2 separate regions of the Homo sapiens genome follow, and region 2 is linked to region 1. Evidence: fine-mapped expression QTL. Tissue or cell type: whole blood. Region 1 holds a variant in brackets; the other region holds the start of a gene. All regions are shown on one strand. Distances are between the middles of the regions.

What was found. PIP is the estimated chance that this variant, and not a neighbour inherited with it, causes the effect.
Region 2: it holds the start of SCYL2, and the variant in region 1 is fine-mapped to the expression of SCYL2 in whole blood (INTERVAL, PIP 0.95).

The regions. Positions count from the first base shown.
Region 1 is chr12:100,324,909-100,327,408 of GRCh38, forward strand. It overlaps SCYL2 (SCY1 like pseudokinase 2), which reads left to right. Exons shown (of 18, transcript NM_017988.6): 12 at 1,714-1,846. Among named protein-coding and RNA genes, the nearest start is that of SLC17A8, 31 kb to the right of the region's middle. The variant A/G (reference allele first, on the strand shown) is at 1,101.
Region 2 is chr12:100,266,050-100,268,804 of GRCh38, forward strand. It overlaps SCYL2 (SCY1 like pseudokinase 2), which reads left to right and starts at 1,128. Exons shown (of 18, transcript NM_017988.6): 1 at 1,128-1,743. It overlaps DEPDC4 (DEP domain containing 4), which reads right to left and starts at 1,030. Exons shown (of 10, transcript NM_001364818.2): 1 at 871-1,030. The coding sequence starts at 1,027. RefSeq lists enhancers at 873-952, 1,623-1,692, 1,703-1,762 and silencers at 1,323-1,372, 1,473-1,552.

The DNA of each region.
Region 1 (2,500 bases):
AATTTATATTAACATACATTTTCTCAAAGTACATGTTGTAGGCCGGGCATGGTGGCTCACACCTTTAATCCCAACACTTTGGGAGGCTGAGGCGAGTGGATCTCGAGCACTGAGTTCAAGACGAGCATGAGCAACACAGCGAGACCTCGTCTCTACTAAAAATAAAAAAATTTAGCTGGATGTGGTGGCATGGTGGGAGCATCACTTGAGACCAAGAGGTCGAGGCTGCAGTGAGTTGTGATTGTGCTGCTCCTTCCAGTCTAGGTGACAGAGCAAGCCCCCGCCGCTCCCCACCCCGCCCAAAAAAAATCCAAAACCAAAGCAAAGCGAGTACCTGTTCTAGTTCAGTTCTGAGCATATGTAGGGGTATGTAGAAATGGGAAACATGGATACTTAAATGATGTGAATTGCTGCCCAGTTATATGTATGTTTCTTTTTAAGATGCCAACTGGCCGTTAAGGCATGTTGTTTACAAGAAGTTATAATGAATGTATTTATATTTAGAACAGTAACTAGGAATGGATTTACATTTTATATGTCACCTTTTAAGTGGATTTTAGATAGTACTTTCAGTGCTTCTGCCTACCTTCAGAGTGGCAAATAGGAATTCCCAAATTGTATTCATAGTCCTCTATCTCTAAAAGTTTAAAATTCTGACTAGGAAATTCCTGAGTCGTGAGTTAGTATTGTGTCTTAATACTCTTCCCTGAAAATAAAATTTTTAAAAATTCTACACAGAGTTAGGTAAAATCCTCCAAGAGCTATATTTATTCATTACTTACATGACTAATATTTTATATATCCTAAAAGTAAATAAAATTAGTATTCTCGGTTTTGCTTAAAATATATATATATCTCAGTAGAATGCAGCTGTTCCTTTTATAAAACGAATTATGAGTACAAGTTAAGCGTTCAGATACCTTTTTGAATTTATAATATCTCTTGTGTTTTAATTTCAGAAAACAATTGTACATTGTTTTTTAGAAATGGAAATTTTTCCCCATTTTTCCTGTAGAACTATGGTGCTTTATTAGCCAACAAAATTATTTTCTGCCTTTGTTGGTTTACTGTTTTTTGAAAACTGGAGTTTTATTAATACT[A/G]TAGTCCTGACTTAAAGATATTCTATCTTAAGAAATTCCAAATAGAAGTAGGGTATGATGTATTTATCAAATAGTCAAGTGCATATGGAATTTTGATAAAAGCTTCTAAATAAGAGGTCTTAATAACTGTATATTTGGAAATAGAAAACACATATATGGATACCTTCACATGTTAAAATATTTAGTTTAAAAATGAATTGAACCCAAGTTAGAGTAAAATACTGGAATGTGGGTGAAAATGATCACTTGGTGCAAAGAATGTAGTCCTTTTTATTATTCAAATGTCCCCAAAGGAGTGTTCTTATGATAGTAACACATAATGTAGTAAAAGTTTCTCAAATTCTAATCACTTTAAAATGCTACAAGATTGTAGTCATTCCTTGACTTTAGCTCACTAGTGACCTGGTGAAGCAATCATAAATTCTTTGTGAAACAAGCCAGGAAAATTAGTAAATAAGTGAATTTCCTATGTTGATAAAGGATGAGAGCTTCTAAATCTACATTTATTCTTGAGACTTTAACATATTTATATGAAGATTAAGTTTACACTTAAATATTTTGTTCTAGATTTTGAAAACTTTTAATGACTAATGCAATTTACCTCTTTTAATAGGTTCGTGTAAATTCATTAGTGTGCTTAGGAAAGATTTTGGAATACTTGGATAAGTGGTTTGTACTTGATGATATCCTACCCTTCTTACAACAAATTCCATCCAAGGAACCTGCGGTCCTCATGGGAATTTTAGGTAGCTGAAAATTTAATGTCATTTGATGCTATTTTATCATGCAAATAAATTTTCCAATCTATAAAACAATTATACTCTCCTTTCGTGTATATAGCATTTCATAATTGAAGAATGATGTGATAAATACCATAATATAACTTTTCTCTTTAAGTTTAGCAAAAGCAGTAGAATCTTGACATTTATAAAGGAATAAGATATTTAAGAATTCTAGCTTTACGAATATCATGATAGCATGTAGTTTTCCCCATAAAATGGTACAAAGTGAGAGAGGCAAACAAAGCTACTGGAAATGCTGATACTGGTCTTAGTAGTAATATCTGAGGTTTATTTGATACTCAATTTGTAAGAGGCAAAGTATTTTCTCTGCGTTATGTTATTTTATTCTTCCCCAAATTCAATTAAATAGGTACTATTGTTTCTATTTTATAAGGAAACTGAGGCTCAGAGAGGTAAAATAAGTGATTCAAGATCATATAAGTGGTAAGTGATAGGAGCTGGTTTTCTAATATGTTTAAGTCTTAATTAGTATATTTTGTGGCTAAGTGATATGCTGATGAAGCATGTTAACCTTATAGGACATTCTGTTCTCTCAGCATAATTACAAATTACTAAGAAACTCTGAAATCATTTATATATAGTTAAAGTTATAGAAGT
Region 2 (2,755 bases), 59 kb before region 1:
ACCCCAGTAAAATTTTAATTAAAATTAAATTTAATTAAAATTAATTAAAAAAATTAAAGAATGATAAGGGAATAACTTAGAACTTCTAGAATGTTTTTTCTAGATTTGCAGGGGGAAGTGGGTAGAATCCAAGAACTTAAGCTCTCTTCTCCAACTATGCATAACCGCAAAAGTATGCCCAACTATACATATGTTTACGATAAAATGACAGAAATAAAAATCCACCACCCTCAAATTCCTTCTGTAACAGAAGTTACCCGTCTAATCACTCAAGAAATCTTATCCCCAGACATTGTGGGCAGAGCGGAGACTGAGGAGGGGAGGCCAGAAAGTGATGGGCGGAGGTGGGCAGGAGGGTACTCGACGGGGTAGGTGGAAAATACAGCGGTACAGCCTGTTTTCCATAGACAGTCTACCTCTCTAACCTTCATTAAACAAGTAGGCTAGATTAAAGAAATAACTCCTCTAGCTCAAGGAATTTGCCCTCTAGTACATTAACCCCTTGTTGCTGTAAGTGTAGCCTAGGGACCAGCAGCATTGGTGCCATCTGGACATGTATTAGAAACGCAGATTATCAGACCCTACTCCTCAATCAGAATTTGCACTTTCACAAGATCCTAGGGATTCGTATGTATATTAAAGTTTGAGAAAAAACGCTTTCCTGCACGCTCCAAGGGCACTTCACCACAGTAACCCCTAAAAAGCCTCAGTCCTGGGTCCCCCAGTCCAGTGCCTGGTAGGGCAGGAAGGGGGCGGGGCTAGGAAATGGGCGGGGCCCTGGACCAATGAGGAGCAGAGTCCCAGCCGCCTGCTCCCTTCAGCTGCCCCCTCCACCTTCACTGCACATTTGGCTAGGATATACAGGGCTACCTGTCCTCCTTTTCCGGCAGAAGCCATCTCTACGGTTCCTGGAACTTGGCCCGTTCAGCCCTGGGCCCGGAAGCTCGTTCTGACTGACAAGTCTACGGAACCTCGGAGTCAAAAGAACCGCCATAAGCTCGCGCGCTGGCTCCTCCCCTGGCACCATAGCCCCGCCCCACCTGACACCCGGGGCGGAGAGAAGTACTGGCTCCGCCTCTTCCGAACCGGCAGGAAGTGACGTCATGCCCCCGGCCGGCAGGTCTTTTAGTCTTTTTCCCCCTCCCTTACTCTTCGTCCCCGGTCCCTCCCCTCCCCACCCCTTTCCTTCTAGCTCCGACGTTTGCGGCCGCGGGGGCGGCGGAGGATATGGAGTAAAGCCAGAGTCAGTGGCCAGGCACGAAGGCAGAGCAGGAACAGCCAGGAGGCGTTTATTAGGGGGGCGGGGGGAAAGAGCCCCAGCACCGCCCCTCCTGGAAGAAGGAAGAGGTAAGTGACCGGCCGCCGGCACCGACCGACCTCCCTCACCGGCGGCTCTCTCGCCTGGGCTCCCGGAGCCGGCGAGGAGGGAATGGAGGACTCGCGCCCGGGTTAGGCCTCCCAGGGCCGCTCAGGCTGGTGGGTGTTGCCTGGTGACGGGCCTGCCGGCGGCCGGCCGGGCGATCGGCGGTCGGCGCCCGCGCAAAGCGGGGCTGGACGAGCAGCGAGCTCCGGGGAGCGGATCCGAGAGGGCCGAGTCCTCGAAAGAGGCCTTGAGGCGACGGGAGACCCGGGATCGAAGTCAGCTGCCGGAGGGAGAGCCCCCCATGCCGGCTCGAGAGCTCGGGTTTCGGTGGTGGAGAACGTAGTACCTTTCGGGGACATTGGACACTACTCTAGGACCGGGTGAGAGAGTTCACCTCAGTTCTGAGGTCCGGAATCCGGTAGCCTGGGTCACCAGCCAGGGCCCTGCCGCCCGCCGTCCTTCTCTGACAGTAGCTTTAGTTCTGGAATGGAAGGTTATTGTGTGTGAGGTGGGTGGGGCAGGGGTTTTGTTAAGAGAAAAAACCCCACGGTTACTCCTGCAGTCTTGTTTTTCTAAACGGGAGAATACGGATGGAGGAGGGTTTAGACCGATAAAGCTTGCAAAAACTTATTGGACTTTGAGCACATACCTGTGATCCGTAATTAAGGAGGCCATATTATCAAATCCACCCTCTAAGGCACTCGAGGAGGCTCCAGACAAGCTGCTTAAAAGCGCTATGCCTGTAGTGACTTCATTGGAAGGTGTCAACTATTTTTTAGTACGTCAAACTCAGGAATTATTTGTGATGACACTTTCTAAAAACATTGGATACTATGAGTGAGTTTTCTAAGTAGCCTATCTCCGTTCTGAAAAATAAATAGTTTAGCAAAAATGCTCCAAATCAGCCTGCCACTGTAAAACCCCATTATGTTCTGGTGATGGCTTGAAAGTCAGGTGCTTGAAGATTCCTTTTGGACTTTGCAGGTTTGTTGTTGTTTGGTTTGCTGTCTTATTCTTTAGCACAAATATTTTTAAAATATTTAAAAATGAAATCAGCTGAGTATATAAATTACTTCTTGAGGCAACATTAAACTGTAATCATAAAGAATGCTTTTGGGGGATTGTGTAAAGGAAGGGAACCTAATGGAAGGTAAGGGCCTTCATTCTCTTTAGATTTACATTACTCACATGCAGAAACCTATTTTGTCTCTAAGATTCATAAATACCCAGTAAAATAAATACAGGCACATTGTACTTCTATACTGTGGAATACTTTCTAGACAGATCAACCCTGTTACTGGGAATAACTACTCATATTCACATGTTTGAAATTCATGATATACCTCCCTTCCCCCACCCCAAGAAGAAAAATAGCTCCTCTTACTGTGTTTA